Linked DNA regions of Homo sapiens. The protein of the gene in region 2 purifies or fractionates together with the protein of the main gene of each other region. This does not show direct contact. Each region holds a gene or a part of one and is shown on either strand. Other genes may lie near its edges. The genes, in order: KDM6B, TDG and ZNF384.

Region 1 (3,724 bases), on a different chromosome or scaffold from region 2:
AAACCTTGGTCAAGCCCCCAGTCTCATACCCAGTTCCTCCAGGTCCTCTACTTCCCCTGGCTTTCTGGGTCTTCAATACCGACCGACCCCCAAAATCAGACCCCTTTTAGTCCCCCAACTTCCGAGAAGTCGCGCACCGCGGTCCCGAGTGGCCCCTCTCTCGTGGCTCGCGTATCCTCTCTGCCCTTCCCCGCCGGGGCCACGCGGTTCCCCACGGCCCACGTGGCCCCCGCCCCCCAAGGGAGGGGGGATTTCGGGGGTTGCCCGTGACGTGGCTACTTGCGCAGCGGAAGCGGTGTGTGTAAATGTACTGCGGGGGGGGGGGTCCTGAGGGAGGGAGGAGGGCGGGGCCCGACAGGCAGTGACATCACCCTTGTCCCACTCTCACCACCCACTCCCTTAAAGAACCCAGAACTCGTTTCACTTCCTCCTTCACGCCCCCCCCACCCTTTCGCTTTGGTGCCGACTGGACCCCCGACTGGCACAGCGCTCCCCTCTCTTGGGCACCTTCCCTTTAGCCCCAGCTCTTCCTTCTCGCCTCTCTGAGCCCAGGAGCTGCGTCCCCGCGCCTCCTCCTTGCCTACCCGGCGTCCCCGCAGGTAGGGAGCCGACTCGGCTCCCGGGATCGGTCCATTGAGAGTCTAGAGTACAAAGAGCAGCGAGAGGCGAGTGTCGAGTACAAAGCCGCGGGGGCGGGGCCAGCGCTCCAGCTGGAGCGAGCGCCGGGCAGGAAGCCGGGGGAGAGTGCGCGACGAGGGGCTGGGGGTGGCTGGAAAGTTCGCGTTCGTTGAGAGAAGTCTGCGCTGTGGGGAAATTTCCACCCAGCCCACAAGGGCAGACGGGTTTCTGGTGAAAAGAGCCTTCCTTCCCGAAGGGGCAAGGTCGTTTGTTTGCATGGAAGCGCTTGGACCCTACAGGTCCCTGCGTGCCACTCTCCGCCAAGCCCTTGTGGTCGCTTGGGCCCCGCGGACCCTCTCCGCGGTTCACGTGGTATTACTGTCAGAACTCTCTCCTCACTAGAGGCAGCATCCTTTCCATCAGTAACCAAGCCAGGTACGGCGCTGAACTGTGGTCAAGTATGGCCCTCCGTGACTGCCCCCACCCGAGTACCGAGGCAGGGGCGGGGAGGAGACCCAAGAACCAGACGTGGAGGGGGAGCCGGGGAACCAGACAACAGAGGGGCAGATGCCTGCTTGGGAAGTGGTCCCGAGAGCGCCGCCAGTTACCAGGAAAGGCAGCTTCCCCTTCGGCGATGATGACACTTCCCCTCTGCCACTTCCCCTTTCCCACGGGGAACTGACTCAGCTTTCCCTAAGTCAGTGAGTGCCGTCCCTCCAGCTCCCTGCTCTTCCACCTTTATCCACAAAGCCCCACGCCAGCACCCAAGAATACAAAGCCCTCACTTGAAGACAAAACTTCCTGTACACTAAACACACACTCATTCTCGCCAGCCACCTCGGATCCTTGTCCGCACCCGGGACCCAGGCGCTGGACTCCTCACTCGCCCCCCCGCCCCCCGTACAAAGCCCTCCCTCGGGGTCTGATTCAGGCTTGGGGTGGGGGAGCGTGAGTCACCCAGAAAACCTTCCCCTCTTCCCACTGACTCAGCCCCCGCCTCCCTGAACACACACAGACACACAGTCAGAGGCAGACACAACTCCTCAGCCCACACACCGGCTCACCACCGGTCCCGCGGAATTTCCCCTCTCGTCTTCCCCCACGATGGCCCCTCCCCGTGCCGGGCAGCCCCGACGCGGCGCTTGCACCTGTTCCCCAGTCGCCGCCAGCTCGCGCTCCACTCTCACCTCCACTCTCGCTCTGGGGCAAGAATAGCCCTCCCTGACTCCCGGTGTCTATACTAACCAAGGGAAGGGAACCACGGACAGGCACAAAGACTGACACCCACAGACTCCTCGAAGACAGGCGAGAGGTAGACGCACGCGGCCAGAGCCAGGCTGGGAGATCGATATACTTCTGAGGCAGACATTCCAGCCTCTCCCGACCCGACCCACAACCTCGGGAGCCAGCGGCTCTGAAAGGGTTAATTCCGCTCCCGCCGAGGCCACACCCTCTCCATCCGGGCACTCCCGGCGAAGCCCAGCTCCGCCCCCTCCATCCGGGCCCTGGACTCGGGACTTTAACCGACCCCCTACCCCCCGCCCCCGCTGGAGCCCCAAGAGAGAACACTCCATCAATCACACCCACTTAACTCTCTCTGGGCTTGAGCCGAGGAGCCCCTCCGCGCAGCGCCGCAGCCGCGCGGGACGCGTGGTAAGAGGCCTGAAGTGCGCACGCAAACTCACGTGACGGCCAGAGACAAGAGCCCGCAGATAGGGTTTTACCTAGCCGGCAATCAGCGGGCATGCTGCGCGCGCGCCGAGGTGGGGCGGTCCAGGACCCTCGTCGCAACCCGCTCCCTGCCCGTCCTCATCACGCCTGGTGGAAGCGAGGGGTTACACGCTCGCTTCTTACCTGGGGGAGGGGGAGGCGGAGGGGAGGGCCGCCGGCTGAGGCTCCGCTGTGACTCAGCCACCCGGGCAGGCCGCCCGCCCGGGATTCCCTTCCCCAGCCTTCCCCCGGCTGCCGGCCCCTCCCCGCCCCCCACCGAGGAGTGACGGTGCCGGCCCCGGCCCGCTATGTGTCACTGCAGGCCTTGTGTCTGCCTCTGACTGGGCGCTGTGTTCACCAGTCTGTCTGACACGGTCGGCTGTGCGTGGGTCCCGGTGTCTGTCTCCGCGTGCACCTGCATATCTGCTCATCTTGTCTCCCTCTGTGCCTGTGTCTGACGCGTTCCTGTCATTATCCCTGTCTACATGACTCCGCGGGGCTGTCTCTGTCTGTGTGTCTGCCTAGCTCCTGTCTCGGTCTTTTGTCTGGGTCTGCCTCTGCATCACTAGCGTGATCACGTGTGTCTCCGCACATGCCCTTCTGTGTTTGCCTTCATGTTACTGAACAGAGTCGGGGCGACACTGGCGCAGGCCCACCCTCCTGACTCCTTGCTACACTCCTCTCGATCCTGACGTCTCGCTGGATCAGTGATCATTCTGTCTGAGTCAAGAATTTGGAGGTCTGTCTGCCTTCAATCAAGTTCTGTCCCATCCCTCGACATCCCTGCTTATCCTCAGAGCTCCCTGTGGCTCCCACTGTGGTGATAACTGCTAGCATTTTGTGAATATTTGTTACATGCCAGGCACTGTATTAAGTATTTTACAAGCATTTCTTTTACTCCTCCCCAAAACCTGACATAGGAGGTACTCTGATTACCCCCATTTTACAGATGAGGAAATTGAGGCCCAGAGAGGCTAGGTGACTTGGCCAAAGTCATTCTGCAAGTGAAGAATGAAAGAGCTAGGCTTCTTTCCAGAGCCACATTCTTACCACTCTTATGTACTGCCTCTGTCCTACTCTCCCTCCCTTGGTTTTATCCTCACAGGCCATCTCCTGGGTCAACCTTCCTTTCAGCTCTACCCATGTTACCATCCCCAATGTCTCACGTCCTCTAGAGGATAAAGTAGGAGGCTGTGCAGCAAATCTCAGAAGTCATAGGTTCTTCATAATGAAGCTCATTCAGTTAACATTATTCAACACAAATCCACCATGCACCCCAATGTGCAAAACATCAAGCAAAATAGTGAGAGACACATAGAAGAAAACAGTCCCACTCGAGAAACCCCATATGTAATGAGGAAGAACAACACAGAGAGAACTTAAGCCCCTGGCTTAG
Region 2 (3,500 bases):
CTCCCAAAGTGCTGGGATTACAGGCGTGAGCCACTGTTTCCGGCCAGTTATCCAGAACTGTTTAGTTAACTAGCATTCAAGTTTATGAAGATTTTTGTGTAGATGTAATGCTTGCTTCTGCCAAGGAATAAGAATGTTGTAATCCACCATCTTTTATTCTGGCTTTTAGGCAGCTGTTGAGGTAAACAAACTAAGTTTAATGCTCGAAGATAGTGTATTCCTCAGAACTAACACATTTGATTTTCCATAGGTTTATTTTCCTTTACCTGTTCTAATTTAACTTTTTGTAAAATGCCACAGTCCATTTTTAGAAAGATTAAGGGATATTTCATTATTATAGATAAGTTTCTAGGTTTCTTTCAAACTTGATATACCTAATATAAAAGTTCAGATTATTTTTCCTCTTTATTTTTCACTTTTTATTCAGCCAACTGTGATTTCTAGAATTTTGATTTTCAGCTTCTGAACCCCAGAATTTCTGAAGATGATTAATGACCTCCGACTATACTAAAAGTTTTGAAAAATTTTTTTAAAGTAAAGAATCCTGTTGTAATGTGAACGGTGTCTCCCTAATTTATGTATTTTCAGTTTGCATTTTCATGAAGTGCTCAAAATGGGACATGTGAAATTCTGAGAGTAGTAGTAAGAAACATGGGAGAGTGGTAGGTAGATTGCCTTCCTGACCATGTGACAGAGTAAAAACACGTTTCATACATTTTTTTTTTTTTTTGAGACGGAGTTTCGCTCTTGTTGTCCAGGCTGGAGTGCAATGGCATCATCTCGGCTCACCACAACCTCCACCTCCTGGGTTCAAGCGATTCTCCTACCTCAGCATCCTGAACTAGCTGGGATTACAGGCATGCGCCACCACACCCAGCTAATTTTGTGTTTTTAGTAGAGACAGGGTTTCTGCATGTTGGTCGGGCTGGTCTTGAACTCCTGACCTCAGGTGATCCGCCCGCCTTGACCTCCCAAAGCGCCGAGATTACAGGCGTGAGCCACTGCACCCAGCCACATCTCATGCATTCTTTTGCTCGCTCATTTATTGTCACCATATGCCTTTGTTTCTATATATTCAAGCTAAATCAAGGTGCTATTAGAATCTCGGGAAGCTGCCGCTGACCACAGTCAGAACTTGCAGTTTCTTTAGTTAGAATTGCCATAGGACCACTGCTCAAGACTTCCAGATCTAACCTAGCCATATCCAACTCATCATTAGAATATTTAAATCATGAATGTTGAACAACCAATATTTTAACAATTTATTGCATAGAGCTACTAATAATATTAAATAAAACTATGGAAAAAAAGGACATTTTACTTTGTGCCAGGTATGCTTCTAAGCATAGTTCTACATCTTAACTTCTAGTCCCTGTCTACATATTTTCCCTTATGTGTAGCCTTAGTTATACTATTTTGTATTCTTTTCTGTTTTAAAATATATATAAACTCTTTCCTGTTCTTTTACATAAGATAAATAAACTTAATTTTTTAGCTGCATAGTATTTTCTCATGTTAATGTATTGTAGTTTACTAAGTCATAACTTTATTTTTATTTAATTTGTGAACAATAAAAGAAATAAAACTCTTATGATACAGGTTAATCTCTTTCTCACTCATTCTTAATCTTTGCTTTACCAACCTACCCTTAAAGATAGCTGGAAGTGGAAATGCCTCTCCAGTGGTTTGTCCATTGGGATTGGGCTTCTGTTTATCTTGAGCTGCCAACATTTAGCCCAGCCGCTGGGGGTGGTCTGTTATCCTTTGTTTCCCCAGGCCATTTAAGCTTATCCAGGAAATGCTTTAGTTTGCCTTTTTTTTTTCCTGTTAACCATTTTATTGAGATATGATTTACATACTACATAGTTCATCCATTTAAAGTGTACTCATTTGCCCTCTTTTGTTGTTGTTGTTGTTGTTATTGAGGCAGAGTCTCGTTCTGTCCCCCAGGCTGGGGTGCAGCAGTGTGATCATCGCTCACTGTAACCTTGAACTCCTAGACTCAGGCAATCCTCCTGCCTCACCCTCCTGAGCAGCTGGGGCTGTCAGCATGTACCACCATGCCCAGCTAATGTTTTAAAATTTTTTTGTGGAGGTGGCGATCTTGCTATATTGCCCCGGCCACTCTTGAATTCCTGGCCTCAAGTGATCCTCCCGCCTTGCCCTCCCAAAGCACTAGGATTACAGACATAAGCCACCGTGCCTGGCCTCATTTCCCTTTTTAATCTGCTTTCTGAGCTTCCTGTTCTCTTTCAATGAATATCATAGAGAATGAAAACTGATTAGTATAGTATCTTGCAGTAGAAAACATGACTTTCGCTGGGCGCGGTGGCTCATGCCTATAATCCCAGCACTTTGGGAGGCTGAGGCGGGTGGATCGCGAGGTCAGGAGATTGAGACCATCCTGGCTAACACGGTGAAACCCTGTCTCTACTAAAAATATAAAAAAAAATTAGCTGGGTGTGGTGGTGGGGGCGCCTGTAGTCCCAGCTACTCGGGAGGCTGAGGCAGGAGAATGGCGTGAACCCGGGAGGCGGAGCTTGCAGTGAGCCAAGATCGCGCCACCACACTCCAGCCTGGGCGACAGGGCGAGACTCCGTCTCAAAAAAAAAAAAAAAAAAAGAAAAAGAAAAAGAAAACATGACTTTCCTCTCCAAATAGTAAAGCAAACTTTTCCATTTTATTTTCTACTGTTTTTCTTCTCCTGCCTATTTAATGGCATTATTTGGCATTTGCTGTAACTTGAGTTTCATCAAATATGTGTTTACTTCTCTGGTTTTATGCTAACAGCAACACCATGAGATAGTGGTTTAAGGCCATGAGAAGTATTTTTTTTAATTGTTTTCTTTGAAAGCCCACATTGTTTCCTTTGAACAGAATACTTTGAACAAAATTTAAATCGTGTTCAGAAGAGAGGTTTAGAGGTTTTTTCCTTCATAAATTCAACACATGTTTACAAAATATCCATTTCATGTTTCTCTTTAGTGACTGAATCTATTTTGTGTTGCTGTTTCAGAATGCCATAGACTGGGCAATTAATAAACAGTAGAGGTTTTTTTGGCTCCTACTTCTGGAGCCTGGGAAGTCCAAGATGGAGGGGCTACATCTGATGAGGGGCTTCTTGCTGCGTCATAAAATGGCAGAAGGAATCACACAGTGAGGCAGCACTTGTGACAGAGAGATAGGAAAGGGAGTTGAACTCATCCACTCATCGTGTTATCAGGAACCCTCTCCTGTGATAATAGCATTAACCCACTCCTGAAGGCAGAGCCCTCCTCTTGACCTAATCACCATTTTTTTTTTCTTTTGAGACAGAATCTTGCTCTGTCACCCAGGCTGGAGTGCAGTGGTACAATCTCAGCTCACTTAAACCTCCACCTTCCAGGCTCAAACAGTTCTCCTGCCTCAGCCTCCCAAGTATCTGGGACTTCAGGTGCATGCCACTGTGCCCGGCTAATTTTTATATTTTTAGTAGAGGCGGGGTTTTGCCATGTTGGTCA
Region 3 (3,724 bases), about 97 Mb from region 2:
TTTCAGGCAACAGAATCAAGATACAATCAGATCACAGTTTAAGAGAATTCAATCTTGCCAAACTTTTTGGGAAGGAGCAATCACATCTTTTACATCTGTATCTTACAAATATCCCCAACATACGACTTTATCACCTAAGACACAATTACATATTTAATGAATTGAACAACGGTAGACTACCTACATATAGATTTTGCAGACAATGCTAGGGGTTCAAGTCTCAATGCATAATCCCTGTCTAACCTTCTAGTGGAAAGAAATGACAGACAAGAGATAAGAGTGGTGATAAATGGTGGGAATTAAGTAGAGAATTAAGATGGAGAGAATGGGTGTGGTGGCTCATGCCTGTAATTCCTGCACTTTGGGAGGCTGAGGCAGGTGGATCACTTGAGGTCAGGACTTTGAGACCAGCCTGGTCAACATGGTGAAACCCCATCTCTACTAAAAATACAAAAATTAGCCAGGCATGGTGGCACACGCCTGTAATCCCAGCTACTCAGGAGGCTGCGGCAGGAGAATTGCTTGAACCCAGGAGGTGGAGGTTGCAGCGAGCCGAGATCTAACCACTGCACTGCAGCCTGGGCAACAGAGCAAGACTGTCTCAAAAAAAAAATAAAATAAAATAAAAAAGATTAAAAATAATAATTAGGAGGGAGAATAAACGAAAGAAAGGGCCAATGTATAATTTTCCCAAAAGAATCAAGGAAGTTGGCTGGGTGTGGTGGCTCATGCCTGTAATCCTAACACTTTGGGAGGGCGAGGTAGGTGGGTCACTTGAGCTCAGGAGTTCAAGATCACCCTGGCCAACACGGCAAAACCCCATCTCTAATAAAAATACAAAAATTAGCAAGGTGTGGTGGCACACACCTGTAGTCCCAGCTACTTGGGAGGCTGAGGCAGGAGAATCACCTGAGTGCAGTAAGTCGAGATTGCACCACCACAGTCCAGCCTGGGTGACAGAGCAAGACCCTGTCTCAAAAAAAAAAAAAAAAAAAAAGAATCAAGGAAGTAAAGTAAATGCACTATGGATGTGAAAACGTAGGAAGGAGGAGGCTGAGCACGGTGGCTCATGCCTGCAATCCCAGCACTTTGGGAGGCCAAGGCAGGTGGATCACAAGGTCAGAAGTTCAAGACCAGTCTGGCCAAGATGGTGAAACCTTGTCTCTACTGAAAGTACAAATATTAGCCAGGCATGGTGGCGCACGCCTGTAGTCCCAGCTATTCAGGAGGCTGAGAAAGGAGAATCACCTGAACCTGGGAGGTGGAGGTTGCAGTGTGCCAAGATCGCACCACTGCACTCGAGCCTGGGCAACAGAGTGAGAATCCGTCTCAAAAAAAAAAACTGGTGGACAATATCACCACTATCATTATCATTAAAACTTATTAAGCACTTATTGTGTTCAAGGTAGTGTTCTAAGCACTTTACAACTACTACATCATTTAGTCCCTGCAACAATGAGGTAGGTACTGTAATTCCCATTTGAAATGAGGAAACTGGAGGCACAGAGTCCAACAGTAAATAGCAAAGCAGGAATGTGAATCCAGGCACCAAAGGGCAAGTTAAGGAAAGGGGTTCTACAAGGAACCAAAACCATATAACTGTAGTACACACTTTCTGATGTTATGGCTTGATCCAGGAAATAAAATTTAGAATATTTCCAGGAATGAACTATTTTCCAGCTAGTTCTCAAAAAATGTTTTCAAAATTGAAGTTTTTGATAACAGCAAAATGACATGCAGTTCAAGGTCATATTCCTTATTCTGTGAAACCTCACTTAGCTACCAAGATAACTTACTTTAGGATGACAGAGCCTGAATAAAGAGGCCGGACTTTACAAAGGAAAATAAATAAAAAGCCCCTCCACTTACTTGGATGCCTAGTTTATTGCATCCAATAAACTGGTGTGTCTGGTCCAAGGACAAGACACTACATATGCGTTACCAGCTTCCGATAAATAGGTCAGCCCAAAAGGGAGACCACAGAGAGAACTGCTCATCCAACTATAAGCAACCTTTACCAGCAAAATGACACCTGAGAAATGCTATGCCACTGTGCTACTGATGAGGCTGACTTCATCTTTGTACTCCTGAAATGAGATCAATGGAGAGCTAAGAATCAAAACTATTGCTAGAATACAATGTAAATGGCGCCCCCTAGAGTTGTGTAACAGGGCGTTCTGGGGCCAGATCACTCAAATATCTGCTTACTGTCTGTTTTACCGCTTACTCTATCTTTCGTGGAGGAAATTTCTCCAAATCATCCCAACATTCAATCAGGCACATATCAACATTCTTATCACCCAAAGAAGCCCACTGATGTTACACAGAAAACTCATGTCTACACAGAGAGTGCCAATTTTAATGATTATGCCTATATATTTAAAGAAAGTACTTTGGGAGGCCAAAGTAAGAGAATCACTTGAGCCCAGGAATTCAAGAACAGTCTGGGCAAAATAGGGAGACCCTGTATCTACAAAAAATTAAAAAAGTAGCCGGGCATGGTGGCTCACACCTGTAGTCCCAGTTACTTGGGAGGCTGAGGCAGGAGGATTGCTTGAGCCCAGGAAGTCGAGGCTGCAGTCAGCCATTATCACGCCACTGCACTCCAGTCTGGCCAAAAGAGTGAGACCCTGTCTCAAAAAGAAAAAAAGAAAAAGAAATAGAAAGGAAAGAAAAAACAGAAGAGAAGGAAAGATATAATTTGGTGGAAAGAAAAATGCTGGCAGGCTGAAAATCTGGGTTCTCATATCAACTTTACTATTGCACCAAGCCTCAACTGTTCTGTTAATAGGAAGGGAGGTTTACTGCTGGGCGAGGTGGCTCACACCTGTAATCCTAGCACTTTGGGAGGCCGAGGCAGGTGGACTGCCTGAGCTTAGGAGTTCAAGACCAGCCTGGGCAACATGGTGAAATCCCATCTCTACTAAAATACAAAAAATTAGCTGGGCATGGTGGCATGCGCCTGTAATCCCAACTACTCAGGAGGCTGAGACAGGGAATTGCCTGAACCTGGGAGGTGGAGTGGAGGTTGCAGTGAAAGGAGATCAGACCACTGCACTCCAGCCTGGGCGACAGAGCGAGACTCAGTCTCAAAAAAAAAAAAAAAAAAAAAAAAAGAAGGCAGGTTTACTCTAATTAAGTTGGAGAGTAATTTTCTCTTAAGAGACACAAGGAACTACATATTCCTTCTCCAATCTCAAATCTCAGAAGCCCTCAGGAGATAAAGAAGAGAGACACTATCAAGTATTAATAATAGTCGTGAAACACGGTAGGACTTGAACTCTTGGCCCAGAGCTTTGTCTATCTGACCACATCCTTCCGTAATGCTACCAACCATCCAGGGATAAAGATGACATGGCCTCCAGCAGGTGTTTTTGGCAGATATGGTGAAGACCACCATCTCTTTCCCAGAACCCACTAATTGTTTTTTTACTGTTGTTTTTTCAAATAAAGCATGATTTTCTTTCCCCAAGAAAACAGCATTCCCTTAACACAACCAACCCTTAGAAAACCATGAAATACACTCATCAAGTTCAGTAGCTAGAGAATGGCCTTGGGAATCAAGACTTCTGAATTCTTTTTTTATGAGACAGAGTCTCATTTTGTTGCCCAGGCTGAAGTGTAATGGCGTGATCTCAGCTCACTGCAACCTCCACCTCCTGGGTTCAAGCAATTCTCCTGCCTCAGCCTCCCAAGTAGCTGGGATTACAGGCGCTTGCCAACA

Evidence for each region.
Region 1: the proteins of TDG (region 2) and KDM6B purify together in Homo sapiens (affinity purification with western blotting, with the first as the bait; one study listed by BioGRID). This does not show direct contact.
Region 3: the proteins of TDG (region 2) and ZNF384 fractionate together in Homo sapiens (co-fractionation; one large-scale study listed by BioGRID). This does not show direct contact.

What each region holds. Positions count from the first base shown.
Region 1 is NC_000017.11:7,840,659-7,844,382, reverse strand, and holds part of KDM6B (lysine-specific demethylase 6B), read right to left. Parts: intron 745-3,724; coding exon of another isoform or gene 519-744; intron 1-518. Other genes in the region: translation initiation factor IF-2, read left to right, coding at 519-744. UniProt on the Homo sapiens protein: Histone demethylase that specifically demethylates 'Lys-27' of histone H3, thereby playing a central role in histone code. Demethylates trimethylated and dimethylated H3 'Lys-27'.
Region 2 is NC_000012.12:103,972,372-103,975,871, forward strand, and holds part of TDG (G/T mismatch-specific thymine DNA glycosylase), read left to right. Parts: exon of another isoform or gene 1-651; coding exon of another isoform or gene 652-662; intron 663-3,500. UniProt on the Homo sapiens protein: DNA glycosylase that plays a key role in active DNA demethylation: specifically recognizes and binds 5-formylcytosine (5fC) and 5-carboxylcytosine (5caC) in the context of CpG sites and mediates their excision through base-excision repair (BER) to install an unmethylated cytosine.
Region 3 is NC_000012.12:6,682,686-6,686,409, forward strand, and holds part of ZNF384 (zinc finger protein 384), read right to left. Parts: intron 2,631-3,724; exon of another isoform or gene 2,513-2,630; intron 1-2,512. UniProt on the Homo sapiens protein: Transcription factor that binds the consensus DNA sequence [GC]AAAAA. Seems to bind and regulate the promoters of MMP1, MMP3, MMP7 and COL1A1.